Linked DNA regions of Homo sapiens: regions 1 and 2 are each linked to region 3. The links come from fine-mapping of genetic effects on gene expression. A gene starts in region 3. Each other region holds a variant in brackets. All regions are shown on one strand. Distances are between the middles of the regions.

The links. PIP is the estimated chance that this variant, and not a neighbour inherited with it, causes the effect. A credible set is the group of variants that fine-mapping cannot tell apart.
Region 1: its variant is the best candidate, but not a certain one, in a credible set for the expression of PLXDC2 in whole blood (INTERVAL, PIP 0.73).
Region 2: its variant is the best candidate, but not a certain one, in a credible set for the expression of PLXDC2 in blood mononuclear cells (TOPMed, PIP 0.82).

What each region holds. Positions count from the first base shown.
Region 1 is chr10:19,789,209-19,794,436 of GRCh38, reverse strand. It overlaps the pseudogene RNU6-1212P. Among named protein-coding and RNA genes, the nearest start is that of PLXDC2, 25 kb to the left of the region's middle. The variant C/A (reference allele first, on the strand shown) is at 3,091.
Region 2 is chr10:20,099,477-20,104,704 of GRCh38, reverse strand. All of the region lies in intron 4 of PLXDC2 (plexin domain containing 2), which reads right to left. Among named protein-coding and RNA genes, the nearest start is that of PLXDC2, 290 kb to the right of the region's middle. The variant G/A (reference allele first, on the strand shown) is at 2,730.
Region 3 is chr10:19,813,233-19,818,460 of GRCh38, reverse strand. PLXDC2 (plexin domain containing 2) reads right to left here and starts at 2,029. Exons shown (of 14, transcript NM_032812.9): 1 at 1,270-2,029. The coding sequence starts at 1,381. LOC124902388 (a long non-coding RNA gene) reads left to right here and starts at 2,233. Exons shown (of 2, transcript XR_007062078.1): 1 at 2,233-4,059. RefSeq lists an enhancer at 2,340-3,105.

The DNA.
Region 1 (5,228 bases), 24 kb after region 3:
ATCTTGTTTTTATATAAACTACATTATCTAAAACTTGTGTTAGAATATGTATTTATTTATTTATTTATTTATTTTGAGATGGAGTCTTGGTCTGTTACCCAGGCTAGAGTGCAGTGGTACAATCTCAGCTCACTGCAATCTCTACCTCCCGGGTTCAAGCAATTCTGCCTCAGCCTCCTAAGTAGCTGGGATTACAGCTGCGTGCCACCATGTCTGGCAAAAAAATTTTTTTTTTTTTTTAGTAGAGGCGGGGTTTCACCATGCTGGCTAGGCTGGTCTCGAACTCCTGAACTCAGGATCCACGTGCCTCGGCCTCCCAAAGTGCTGGGATTACAGGAGTGAGCCACCACGCCCAGCCTATTTATTTATTTTTTGAGGCAGGGTCTCATTCTGTCACCCAGGCAGGAGTGCAGTGCCATGATCTTGGCTCACTGCAACTTCCACCCCTTGGGCTCCAGTGATCCCCCAACCTCAGCCTCCCTAGTAGCTTCGACTACAGGTGCACACCACACACCTGGCTAATTTTTGTATTTTTTTTGTTGTTGTCGTTGTTGTTTTAGTAGAGACAGGGTTTCACCATGTTGCCAAGGCTGGAGAATATTTAGATCGACGAGGGTCTGATACTTGTTCTTCCAAATGAATCAAAGTAGTTGTTCAATAGAAACTGATACTGTCATATACACAGTTTGGAATGTAAAACTTATTAAAAAGTTACAGACCTTGAGAATATCTTATATTTTAGATGTTCTTTAATTTGGGGATTCCGATAGGTCACCCTCTAGTTTTGTGATATTCTACAGCTGGAATGAATCCTGATCCTCATAACAGAGCTGGGTTCTGCATAAGTAGAGAGTTCATCCAAATTATGATCAAGCTTGACAGAACCTCTTCTCAAATCAGATTGTGAAGTGGCCACAATGACACTTGAATAAAACAGTGGAGTTACAGTAAAGGGAACAATATCCTTTTTATTGCCTTTTCTTCACAGCTCAGAACAGAGACCAGTCTGGCTAATTTGGGAACGGTGACAAAATTAGTAACGGTTTGTAAATGCATAATTAGATGATTTTTAAAATTTTAACTTTTCATACTTTAAATGTAAGGTAAAATCAACAGTGAAAATGAAATGCCTATCTAGAAAAAATAGCTCCAATTAGCTCATTATTCAATTCTGCCCTTCTCTTTCTCATTCTTCCTTCTTTTAATGCCTGCATTTGCCTTTTCTTGTCTATGAAGATATTTTGGAGTCTAAAAGATTATTGTCATAAAGAAGCTATAATGTATAACCTTGGCTAGTTTCTTCAAGGGTGTTTTTAAGAATAAAATGAAACCTTGGTGCTTGCTTCATTAATATATATACTAAAACTGGAACAGCACAGAGATCAATATCGTCCATGTGCAAGGGTGGTTCACACATTTGTGAATCATTCCACATTTTTCAATCTTTGTGTTGGAAGAGACGAGAGTATGGAGGGAGGATGGAAAAGGGGATTAAAGGGTACTTCATCTCTATCACTAATATTTTACTTCTTATATTAATAAAAGTTCATCTTCACGTATGAATCTAAGTGTTAGTTGTATCTTTACTGATTTTTGTGTTTAAATATTTTTTAAAATATTACAGCAGTCATTTCATTTCCAAGTTCTTATTTCTTCCAATTTTATTTATTTTTTTATCTATTTAGAGACAGGGTCTCAGTCTGTTGCCCAGGCTGGAGTGCAGTGGCCCGATTACAACTCACCACAGCCTTAGCTTCCCAGGCTCAAGTGATCATCCCACCTCAGCCTCCTGAGAAGCTGGACCACAGATGTGTGCCACCACACACAGCTAATTTTTGTAATTTTGGTAGAGACGGGGTTTCACCGTGTTGCCTAGGCTGGTCTCAAACTCCTGGGCTCAAGCAAGTCTGCCTGCCTCATCCTCCCAAAGTCCTGGGATTACAGGTGTGAGCCACTGCTCCAAGCCATTTCCAGTTTTTTAATCTAAAGAAAATAAATCAGAAGTGTATGCCAAGATTTATACATAAGGATATTCACTTCAGCACTATTTATAATAGAAAAAAATGGAAACAAGCTAAAAGTTGAACAATACAGAAATGGTTAAGATAATTATAGCAAAGTTATGTGATTATTATACATTTATTTGGAAATCTTACTTTCAGTATGTTTCCTATTGCTGCTGTAATATATTACCACAGGTCTGGCAGGGTGGCTCACACCTGTATTCCCAGTTCTTTGGGAGGCCGAGGCAGAAGGATTGCTTGAAGCTGGGGAACTGGAGTCCGGCCTGAGTAACATAGCAAAAGCCTATCTCTACGATAATAATAATAATAATAATAATAATAATAGTAATAATAATAATAACACAAATAAAAAGCTAGCTGGGCATGGTGGCATGAGCCTGTAGTCCTAGCTACTAGAAAGCCTAACGTAGGAAGATGGCTTGAGCCCAGGAGTTCGAGATTGCAATGAGCTATGAGTGTGCTACCGCACTCCAACGTGCAGGACAGAGCGAGAGCCTGTCTCTAAAATAAATAAATAAACACAAACTTTGTGTCTTAAAACAACATGAATTTATTACCTTACTAGTCTGGTGGGAGGTCAGAAGTCCAAAATGGGTCTCCAGGGAAAAAGCAAGATATTGGCAGGGCTGCATTTCTTCTCTGGGGGAATACATTTTCCTTACTTTTCTCAGCTTCTGGAGGCTTCCTGCATCCATTGGCTCGTGGCCTGAACCTTGCATAGCTCCAGGCTTTTGCTCTCATTGTTACACTTTCTTCTACTGACTCTGATTCTCCTCCCTCTCTCTTGTGATTATATCATGCCTATCCAAATAATCCAGAATCATCCATCTCAAGGTGCTTAAATTAATGTCTACAAAGTCCCTTCTACCATGTAAAGTAAGATATTCATAGGTTCTGGGAATAAAGATGTGGTCAACAAACCAGTGGGAAATTAGGATATCTCTTCAACTTTTATAACATTTATAAACACATATATAAACTATTATGTACATATTTGGATGGAATTGACTACAAAGCAAATTAGCCCTTCTCAAAAGTTGTTTTCTTATTAACTATTATTTTTAAG[C/A]TGTGTAAAGTATAAGCCTGTGTTTGAAGTGCATCCTTCAGTGTGTAACATGAATTCTTGACCCAGTTATCAGGTGACTTCAGTCTCACATGTACATATCATGCAGGCTGGGATTTTTCCATTCATTTTGTTGGACAACACCCAGATACCTACTTTTAGAAATTAAGCAAGCACGGAAATGAATCATTTGTAAGTAAAGGTCTTAATCTGCCTGATTGGCACTTTCTTCTCTTTTCTATGTATCAAGGACACTTAAGTGTTAGAAGGAACAATCCGATGCTGTATCATTCCAGATATCTTTTAAGTCAGAGTATATGTAGTACACACCAAATGACTGACATGCAACTTTCTGGTCTCAACCATGAGATTAACAAAGACTGGATGAGATGAACAGAGACTGGAGAATTTATCATTTACTCTTCCATTTCACTTGATTTTCTTTTTTTTTCTTTAGTTATGCTACATGTTTATTCTTCTTCTATTACAGAAAATAGTCTATTGAAATTAACAAGTGTAACTATTAACACTATAATTTAAAGATTCATTAAAAAGCAAAATTTAGAGAAATTCAACCACATGAGTATAATAATCAATCATGCCCTTTTGGTGGTTTAAAATGCTATTAGAGTCTTTCCCTTCACATTTTGTGAGAAAATACAAGTCCTAATTTCTCCTCAAATACTAATGAGATATATGAAAACAATGTAATCTTTCAAAAGGCAGCCATTATTTTATGTATTTGTGCTCTGTGAGAACCTATTAATCTTTTAAAAAATTATTTGGTGGACATTTTAAAAATAAAATTTGGAAAGCCATCTGAATTTTGGAAAGGTGGGTAAAGACTGTCTCATTCTATCATCAACTATAATTTTATTACTTTCAGATATAATTTCCAATTATAATCCCAAGCCAATAACATGAGAATTATTAAAGCACAATTAACGATACATCAGATAAATTATCTTTTATTTTTTACTTACTCTATAGTGTCATATGGAAGCTGTGTATTGACTTTGAAACCAGAAATGTTAAATTCCATATTTTTAAATCCCAAATCACTGACACCTCTAAATAACTGTTAAATTGTTGTGACTTCTGTTGTTGTTTCCTATGTTTCTAGTTTCAATTGAAAGACCCGAGATCTAGATTTTACTTATTACCTGTGTCCTGGAGCTTGTCAGCCACACCCTCTGAGCATCACATTTCTCCTCTGTAAAGCAAAAATAACAATTCCTTCCTTAGTTCAGAAGGTGGTTGTAAAAATGAAATAATATAGAACCACATGGTAAACTCTACTGCAACTAGAAATGCAGTATTATTTTATATCAGAAATACTAAGTGCTTAGATAAGCATCCCAAATTTATTATTTCAGGCACTTGAAATCTCAGGCTTGGAATGTTACAATGAGTAAGTTATACCTCTTCCTACCATCCTTTCTCCATTTTGTCGCCAAAATTATTTTCTCCGAGATGTTATGCTCTTCACTAGAGTTCAGCCTCCTTAGACTGTCTTTCAAAGCAGGTTTCGGTACTGCCCACATTTCGTGGATCTTCTCCAGTAGCCCTGAAACTTGATGACCTGCCTTTAACCCAAGTCATCAAGTTTAAACCTGTATTCTTTCTGTCTCTGTTAACTTGCTCATGTAATTCACTTTAATGGAAATATACAGTCAACCCCTTCTGGTGTCTTCACTTCTTGCTCTATCCATTACTGAATATGTAACCCTATCGCCTTTGAGAGAAACCCTAGTACAGAATGTGCTCTTTCCTCTATATATGCCCACTGCTTTTTAAAATACCAACAGTTTTCAGGTCCATAATTTGTTTTCCAGAGCTCATATTTTTATCTATTTAATAAAGTTGGTACTCAGCTCAAGATGTTCTCAAATTGCCCTTATATCTTAGAGTGTGGAATCAAAAGATGAATCATAAATGAAAACTATCATGAAAGAGGATGAAAAAAAAAAGAGGGGAGGCAAAGTTTTGAGATGTTGGGAAAAGAAATCGCTATCCAGGATAGAGAAGAAAAAAAACTGGGGGGGGAGAAAAAATATATATACATATATAAACAATAAACAAAGAAATGAAACAATTCAATTATTCCCTCGGCTGTTGATTTTTGTTTGTTTTAATGGTTC
Region 2 (5,228 bases), 290 kb before region 3:
TGTGTTTTCTCCCCCCATTTAACAATGTTAATAGTGAAATAGTGAGAGAAAACCCACGTGCCAACAATATTTATATATAGGACATTTATGTAAACTAATACATTAACAGCAATGGATACCTACATGGAACCTAGCTGCTGCAGTAAAGAGTTGCTACTTTCATTAGAAAAACAACATATTCAAACAGTGAGCAGTTGAAATAACCTATAAAAATATGTATTACAGAATGCTGTCATACACTGAAGACTAAGTCTTCAGGGAATTCTTACAAGGGGCTGGAGTTGGTCTACAGAAAATTCCTAAAGAACGTAGAAACCACTGCAAGATATTAAAGATAGGAGGCTTAAAATTTTCAATAGCTTTTGAAGTGAGAAAACTTCAGTGTAAAACATTTGACAACAAAAACCATAAAAATAAAAATAATATTTGATCCTATTGCCCAGAAGTAACTACTGCTGCTAATATTTTCAATTTTCTTACATTCTCTGTCAGTAATCTCATTGCGTTTCCCTAGACAATCCATTCTTTCAAGATAAATGTGACTAATTCATATTGTGTCATCTCTCCTCAAATCTACCACCTATGTTCAGACTTCCTAACTCTCAGCTAATGACTTTACTTCTTATCTCACTGTGAAAGCAGAAATAATCAGGAAAAACCTGCTCCAATCTTAGGCCAACTCCTTTCTTCAGGTACTGGACCCCATGTCCTTCTGCTCTGAAAGTCTCTGCTCCTTCAATTATATCTTATAAAAGATGTGTCAGCCGGGCACGGTGGCTCACGCTTGCAATCCTAGCACTTTGGGCGGCCAAGGCAGGCGGATCACCTGAGGTCAGGAGTTCGAGACCAGCCTGGCCAACATGGCAAAACCCTGTCTCTACTAAAAATACAAAAATTAGCTGGGCGTGGTGGCGCATGCCTGTAAACCCAAGCTACTCAGGAAGCTGAGGCAGGAGAATTGCTTGAACCCAGGAGGTGGAGGTTACAGTGAGCCGAGATCGTGCCACCGCACTCCAGCATGGGAGACAACGATACTCCGTCTCAAAAAAAAAAAAAGAAAAAAAAAAAGAAAAGATGTGTCTTCCCAGTTTTCTCTCTCTCTCTCTCTCTCTCACACACAAACCGCCTTTAACCCCACATCTCTTCCAGCTATGATGCTATTCCTTTCCTCTGCACCCCTTTACAACATTCTTTTAATGGTTTGTTAAAACTGCTATCTCTGGATCCACATTCAATTTCCTCTCCACCTCTTCCTTGAACCCACAAGTCTCGGGTGTCTGTGCCCAGGGCTTTTTCAAAGCTGTTCTTATCAATATGAGCAGTGACATCTACATGGCCTATCTAATGCTCATCAGAGCACTTGAAGTCCTTTGTGGGCCTGATCTTCCATAAAACAGTATTAAAAATTATATGACTGCATTGTTATCAACACAAATACAACCCAGGCAGGTTTCATTTTTATATATGCACTGTCATTATATTTATATTTTTCTATTGATTTGAAAATAAATAAAAATTAAAATATTTTGGGGGCCCCTAAAAGTATTGTGGGTCCTTAGCACTGTGGTCCCTGATGGCTGCATTAACCCTGATGGCGAGATTTCTGTCCGCACCTTCTTAGACTCTCAGAGGTACTCCACATAGTTATCGCCTTCTTGACACCTGTTAGCAAATGTCTTCAAAGACACTGCACTCTTGGTTTTCTTCCCACCTCATTGGCTGCTGTTTCTCAGTCTCTTTTGGAAGCATGTTCTACCTCTTCCTGCTTTGTAAACATGGATGTACTCCAGGGCTGGGCCTAGGATACCTTCTCTAGCTGCCTATACTCAATAATTTGGTGTTCTTGTCCTATCCCGTGGCTTTAAAAACTGATAAACTCCTAAAATTATACCTCCAGCCGCCATTTTTCCTCTAGACATTATACTCAAAGATCTTAACTGCTTATCTGACATGTTCATTGGAATATTTTATGGGAATCTTAAATTTACCATGCCTGAAACAGGATTCCCCCATCTTGTCCTTCTGCAGTGTTCTGTACCACAATAATAGGCCCTGCCATTTGCTCAGTTGCTCAAGCCAAAATCCTTAAAACCACCCTGGACTTTTCTATTTTTCTCGTACCCCTTACATAATTTATAGCAAATATTATTACCAATCCCTTCAAAACATATCCAGAATCCTTCTGCTGCTGGTGATGGAATAGGACAGACATATAGTCCATTTAATAGAAATAAAGGAGTGATTAGATTTATGGACTAAGGGATAGTAGGAATAAAAACAATGACTATATCTTGGGATAAAGGCTGTGGTGCAAAGAGAAACATGAAAGAGTGTTCTTTTTACCCTCAGACAGATAACGATAATTATGCAAATGTACTGCAATTTAGGAAACACCGAGTTATCTAAATCAAAATAATTTAATCAATATATGTAAGATGTTGTCTAGGCGGAATAATAACATGGAATGTAGATTGTGGATTTGGTATTACAGCAGACAGAAAACTTCTGAACTATAGAAATAAACAATGACAAGGTTAGACCACAATGGTAGCAGTCACTGAGCTGAAATAGACAAGGATCTCTTAGAAAGGCTGGTAAAAAACTGACTGGGCACAGTGGCTCATGCCTGTAATCTAAGCACTTTGATAGGCGAGGCGGGAGGATCAAATGAGGTCAGGAGTTTGTGACCAGCTTGGCCAACATGGTGAAACCCCATCTCTACTAGAAAT[G/A]CAAAAATTAGCCGGGCATGGTGGGGGTCGGGGGGCTGTAATCCCAGCTACTCGGGAAGCTGAGGCGGGAGAATTGCTCGAACCTGGGAGGTGGAGGTTGCAGTGAGCCGAGATTATGCCACTGCACTCCAGCCTGGGCAACAGAGTGAGATTCTATCTCAAAAACAATTAAAAAAAAAAGTTTGGTAAAAAAACAAGATATTGTCACTTAATAGACTCTAGAAGAAGAGAATGTTTCCTGAGGAGGAGATGATCAGGAGAACCTAATCCCACAAAGAGGTCAAGAATGCAGGTCAGTCAATGGCCTTAAGATTTGTTAAGGTGTGGGCGCACTACTGACTTGAGCAGCTGAAGTTTTTTGATGATGAACCCAGGAAGCAAAGTAAGAACATTAAGGATTTTTCAATGATAAGTATTAATCAAAGACATTTTTTAGTAGAAGAAGTAGCACAATGACTGCAGACAGAAATTAGGTGAAATCAGCTTTCAAGATTTGAAATACAAAGATTTGAGATATGAAGTGCACAATAGCTGAAGAGAGAAAACAGGAAACTTCAAGAAGCAGAAAGGATTGATCTAGACAGTAGATTCCTTAGGAGTCTCAGTCTAAAGAATAAAACGATTGACTACAGTTGACAGGAGTTTGCTTTATTTGGGTGCATAATTCAATTTCTCCTTTCTTCACTCAGAATCAACACAAACTTTCTGATAATGGCTGAGCTGAACTGAAATGAGAGCCATCCGCCTACTTTGGAAGAATGTGGATAAATAGATCAACACTACCCCCATCCTCTCAAATCTTTATACTCACACATCATTTTTAGAAGCCACTGTACCCCTAAACCAGATGCCATCAATACTTATCTCTGTCACAATTTTTCCTTTTGACATATTTTCATCATTTGGCAGAAAAAATTTTAAAAAGAAAAGAAGAATCATAACTGTCGGCCAATAAATGGCTTGAAATCTTAGTAACAAGTTCAAATTAAATTACCAAACTAGTAAGTGAGAACAACATACAATATAATATGGTGATTGTCATTTAATTGCCAACACAATTCACAACGTGCTGTTAATTTTTTTTTTTAATTTTAGCATGGGTAGATATGATTAGGGCTGCTAATACATAGTATGCAATTTTCATCTCAATTGAGATGAGTACTCAGCAAACACTGTGTTCTGGTAATGGACATTTTCAAGATCACCTGATTGAACAGAGAATCAAAAGGTACAGTGCACCAAATTTTTGGCAAAAAATATTGAAGTAACCAAAAGACTCTCTTCCCCTTCCTTTCTGTCACCTGTGTTGCTAAGCTGTTATCAATTACTCTGCAGGCCAAGGCAATTTCACCTGACATTACATATCAGGGAGAGAGGAGAAGGGCAACAGGAATGACATGTCCAGAGCAACCGTATTATAGTCAACTATCAATTAAATTCAGTGTCTTCTGAATTACACAAAATGCTTGCACTTGGCTGATGACAACACAATGTTCATTGTACTTCCACCCTTTCCCTTGGAGGAAAAAAAAATCACTGACATCACATCACTTCCATGTTATGGATTTTCTGTTATGTTACCATGGAAACACCATTTCCTTTCATTATCTCTCTTTCCCACACAAACACACAAAACGAAAATGGAATTACACATTTATAAACACTTCACTACAAACTCCTCTGGTAACTAGGTCCAGTGAGAAAGAACAGGACTCAATTCTTGCTATGTCAGTCACTGGTTTAACCAGAAATCATTCCTCACTTTTCCCCAGTGCAACATACTGTTTTCCATGATCAGGATTATTTCCGTGGATATAATCAGCATTTGCTAGACTAAGATTCTTTTAAAGTTTGTGCTCTTATTGTGTAGTGACAAGAAGGGCATATTTTGCTTTCTTTAAGGTACTGGTCTAAATTCCTCCTATAAATTTTGCGACAGGGAATAAGTTGTTAGACTCATGCTTTCAATTAATTCAATTTTTGAATAGGTAACATATGAAATAATATTTTATTTTTCTTTTGTGTCACTAATACATACTGGTTTGTGTTTTTAGGCCCCATAAATCGTAACCGTGCAGTATTACTTTTGCACAAAAGGTATTTTGATTTTTTTAAATGTCTACTTTAAAATGAATTACTAAAAACAAAAATACAGTAAAACAGATGATATGATACCAATTAAACATAATTAAAAGAATCTCCCTAGCAACATAATCACTCCCTCAGCCAACTCTAACTAGGCATTATCCTCCCAGAACCTTTCTAGCAGATCTTTTCAAGTGAGAAAAGTTCTGTGAAAACATTTTCTGATGACTCAGAAGCCCTCACTCACACAATTTAGCACTTGTTTTTCTTATTTTGCTCTTCATGGACTATTATTTTCTATTTTCTTGCTGAGCAAAGAAACCCCACACAATCAATATAAAGAAAAACTAACTTTGAAACAACATTCTTTTGAGGATCTGTGAGAAGTGGATGGGAAATGAAAGTACGTGAAAT
Region 3 (5,228 bases):
CAGGGACAGGCGAAGTGTTGTGACTGTCTTCTAAGTCGCGGCTTGGTAAATTTCACTCAAGGGTTTCCTTCAAGATCTTCAAGATTCACCTTGCCTGGAATCCCCAGGTGTCCCCCAACCTTCCATCTGTGACTCTCTAGTTGACTGTTGAGGACGCATGCATACTTTCCGGGCAATCATTTAAATTACACACACACACACACACACACACACACACACACACACACACACACCAGAAAAGAACAAATTGACAAATTGATTATCCTAGGGAGAAAGTTTTCGTTTTCTTTTCTTTTCCCTCCAAGTTTTTTCTTTTTTCTTTTTCTCTCGTTTCACCTCCTCTCGAAGTCCACCCTAGTTCACCAATTTCTGCCAAGATCTCTTTCTGCCTGTGTCTTCACTTTCTTCACTGAAAGGCAGAAATGGGGAGTAGGCACCCAGTTCGCGGTGGGCAGGGTTCCAGGAGGCAGCTCCCGCTCGGCGATAGCCCCCGGGGCGCAACTCCCCGCAGGACGCGCACCTGCCAGGACAGCCACTAAGAGGATGCGGAGGTTGGGGGCCCTCTCGGGGACAAAATCAGGGCACTCCAAGGAACTCTCTGCGCGTTCAGGCCTGTCTGTGAAGCTGGCAGGCGGAGGACAATGGGAGCAGGGGTAGGTCTCCAGAGGCGAGCCCGCCTCCACCTTTCCCACCTGCTCCCCACCTCTGCGCCGGCCGCATTTACCCCGCCCCCCTTCCAGCGCCCGCTTGGCCCAGGTCACTAGACGGAGCTAGTGGGGATCGCCAGGGGAAGGAAGGTGCTGCCACAGGGAATTTTCTCGTGCAGAGGGGAGACCTGCAATCCCTGGCTTTCACAACGTCCCCCACCCACCCCATACCACACACGCTTAGTTTAACCAGCAGCGAGGAAGGAGGAGGAGCCGGAGAGCACACAGCCTGGAGATGCCAGGTCCTAGGAGATGTATCCACGGAAGAAGCTTTGCTCTCACACTGAAGCCCTCCCTGGGCTACTTTGGGGAGACAGTACCACCCCCTGCCGCCCAGGTGAAGTAAGCCCGAAAGCCTCAAGAAAACCCCTAGTCCCCGGCGTCCTTCTCTTGATAACCCTCTTTCCCCATTTGGGAAGCCTAAGTTTAGCCGAAAAGCAACTGCAATAAGTTTCCCAAGGGCAGATAGGTGATGTTGGGGGGAGAGGGTAGGGAGCACGAGAGTGCCAGAGAGGTCTTCAGCTGCGCACAAAATCAGCAAGCTAAAGTGCATCTTACTTACCAAGGATTTGGTCTCCGGGTTTCCCATCGGCGAACTGAAACTGGTCCGTGAAGAAGTGGCAAAGTAACATAACTCCTGCAGCGGCCAGGTCGGCCTTCGGGAACCTCGCCATGCCGCCGCCGCCACCTCCCTACCCCACCCGCCAGTCCTTCGCCGGTGCTCGGGGGCTCCCGATGCAATAGGCACGACCGGGCCAAACGCTGCGGATCGGTCTCGGTAGGACCCGGAGGCCTTTGTAAATGTCGCTGCGATTTCACAGTAGGGAACCGAGAAGAGGAAGAAGCGAACGCGAGTAGGAGCGCAGCGCTCTTCGGACCTCTGAGGCTCTCTTTGCAACTTGCCACACTCGCAGCCCTCACCCGACACTGAACAACAACCGCGGGGAGGAGAGGCCACTTGCAGCCGAGGCTCGCAAACTGTCGGTTCCACTCGGGCAGCGCCAACCCGGTGCCCGCGGACGGTGACTTCCGAGCCCCAGCGATGCGCTCCACTGGGTTCAAAACAGATCTAATTCCACAGCCAGCGCCGCTGCCTGCCCCAGATCCACTAGGGCTGGTCGGCTCTGCAGGAACTTTCCTCTGTCTAGGGATGGCCCCGGCAGGAGGTTTAGGTTTGCGGGAAGGAGGTTGATGACGAAACCCTCCCGACAAGTTTTGCTTCTTTTCTTCGCCCGACGCAGGGCGCGCGTCCTTTCTCGCAGCCGGAGGAATGGGCAGCTCCAAAGAGCTGAGCCCTGGGAAGGTTAGGGCTGCAGCAGTCTGAGGTCCGAAGCCAGGAAAAAAATGTGTTTAAAAAAAAAAAAAAAAAAGAGGAAGAAGAAAGGAAAAGGGTGGAGTGGGAGGGAGTCACGCTGGAACCTATCGGGAGAGGGTTCCTCCGGGCTCAGGAGGAGGTGGCCCCAAGCCCCCGCGGAGCCCCAGGAGTTTGGTGGCGGAGGAGGCGCTGCCGTCGCCACGCTCCCCCGCGCTCCTTCTCCACACTTTGAGGAGGGAAGGCAGCTCGCAATTTGCCAGATCTGCCGCCGCACCCTCCTCCCTCCTCCCTCCGCCCTCCCCTTCGCTCCTCCAGGCTTCTCCCACCTTCCTCCCTGAAACCGGCAGCCCGCACAGACCTGTCCAATGGCTGCACTTTCCTCGGGGCTGGCTGAGGAGTCGCGGCCAACAGATTAAGCCGGGGGAGCCTAGCGAAGGGGAGGGAGAGGGCCACTCCAGCCCCGTGCGCCCCAGGCAGCCGGCTGCCCCAGAGCGCGGGGAGAGGGGACAGGCCGGGGAGCTATCGGGGGAGCGCGGGGCGGTACCTCCGCGCCGCCGGGGCGCCATCCTCGCAGCCTGCTCGCACGCCCTGGGCAGCTCCGCCAACTGCGCCCCACACCCACCTGGCTCCCGGGCCGCCTTCGCGCCCGACTGCGGGGGGCGATCGCGCCCCGCCCCGACCCTGGCGGGGTCTCCCTGGGCACGAAAGGGTTAACCACAGCTCGCCCCTTCGCGGAGGCTGGTTCTGGTAGTGGCTAGGGAGTGGAGAAAGCAAACCAGAGCCGGTTCGGTTACCGACTCTGCGAAGCCCCCTCGACCCCAGCCCAGCGCGGGAGGGTGGCGGAAGGTGGTGCACCGCAGCGTGGTCCCCGCCGCTGCCGCCGCGGCTTTGCAAAGTGTCAGCGGGGGCGAAAGCGAGAGTTTAAAGGAACAGGAGGCCCATTGAATTTCCTACCGGAGCTTTCAGGGGCTCTGGCTCCCCAGTTTGTTTTTGTTTTTTCAGCTCGGGGATCTGTTTCCGCGTTAACCCTTGCCGGCCCTCTCGTTAGTTGATATCTTATTTTGCATACAGTTAATCATTTTTGAAAGGGATAAATACAAGGAAAAGAAGCAAAGCGCTATTGGTTAAAAGTACAGGATCTAGAGCCCGGACAGCCTGGGCTGGAATTTCACCTCCCCCGCAATGAGCAGTTTATCTCCTAGCCTCAGTTATCCATCCATCAAATGGAGAGAATTAGAGTAACGCCCTTATAAGGTGGTTGCAATGGATTGGATGAGTTAACTGTATATTTAATAAATATAGAACATTGCCTACCGCAAAGTACATGGCTTTGTTTAAGTGTTTACTGAAGCAAAAGTGAGAGAAGACGACTTCAATCACATAATAAATGTGCATGTGTTCTAAGTTCAAGGTCCTTTCCACTCCAAGCTCTGAAGAGTCTATGGATGCTGTCAATAGATGTCTCGGCTTGCCACAAAACCCACTGGAAGTGGATCCGGATAATCAATCTACCTTTGCAAATGTGATGCTCAAAGGACGGCTCTCTCATGGGAAACAAGAAAGGTTTCCCTTAATCCAATACTCAATTTGCTCTTTATTTCCAAACAACAGATATACACGTATAAACACAAACATATATCATGCCTATACTCTTTATTATGCCAGGACCCTGGCTCTTTCCTGAGCTTTCCTCCCATAGGTTGATTTCTACTTAGGTAACTGGGTTTTTCTATTTCTGCTTAACTAGGAGTGTTTAAGTTCTATGTAATATTACATCCGAATTTGAGTACCCGGATATATACCTGCTTAAAATCAAGTTTGAAAACTGAGTCTTCTCATCAAAACCTGATTGTGCGGTTGACCCTTGAACAACAGGGGTTTGAACTGCGAGGATCCGCTTTTGCATGGATTTTCTTCCTCCTCTGCCACCCCTAACAGAGCAAGACTAACCCCTCCTCTTCCTCCGCTTCAGCCCACTCAATGTGAAGACGATGAGGATGAAAGCCTTTCTGATGATCCACTTCCACTTAATAAACAGTAAGTATATTTATCTTCCTTATGATTTTCTTAACATTTTCTTTTCTCTAGCTTACTTTATTTTAAGAATACAGTATGTAATATGTAGAACATACCAAATATGTGTTAATCAACTGTTTTTATATTATCAGTAATGCTTCTAATCAACAGTAGGGTATTAGCAGTTAAGTTTATGAGGAGTCGAAATTATACATTAATTTTCTACTGTGTGGGGGTCCGTCCCCCTGACCCCCATACTGTTCAAGGGTCAACTATAGTTTAATTGATGCCGATTCTTTTTGAGGATCATAAATCCATGCGGAAAGCGTCCCAAAATATTCTGCACAACTCCAGCTCCCATCATATCTAAAATAATGGGGAATCCAGCGGAAACCATTTCAAGAAAGCACCTCTTTTTTCAGACCGAGTTATTTCTCCTTCTTTCACAGTAGAAAAATAGGTGTTTCCTCCTCTGAGAACAAGCAAATCTCCACCTCTCCTTGCTATCATTTTCTTTCTTTTTTCCTTTATTATTTTATGTGCGTATTCGCAGGGTTCATTTTTCTTGTTACTTGCGGTCATCAATGCTTTGACCACCTGATTGAAACTATATACTTTTTGTAAGTAGAAATTTGATGTCAAAATTTGAAAGGGGGTAAATGGTCATTCAGGGTCAGTCAGGAAGGACTTTTATATGTTTGGTTATGTCACTGATGCTGCTGAATTGTATTGGTTTACTCCTATCTTAATTTTATTCTGAAGAGCTATACACATAGTAAATGCGGAAGTAAGGGAGAAGATACAAGTAAGCAAAACTCAATCATGCTTGATGAGATTTGCTGTTCAGAAATAAAGAAGAAAGAGCAACATTGTATAACAATAAACTCAAGCTCTGATCATTTGCCTTAAATGTTGATGAATGATTATTTTTTTAAAGTATATTCTGCCTTTACACTGTAGCAAGGAACGAATAAATAAAATGTATGTAGGACAGTATGTTCAGAGTGAAATGGAAAAAGTAGATTACTCATAATTCTGGCTAAACTAGGGTATTTTGTGGCCTAAATTATTTGGGTTTGCCATACACATTTCACCACAGTAGAAGTGTCTCTTTCCATTTTGTAGTAACAAAGTAAGTATTTGTGGAAGATGTTACATCTTCCATCTGACATGAGGGAGAGACGTAGTAA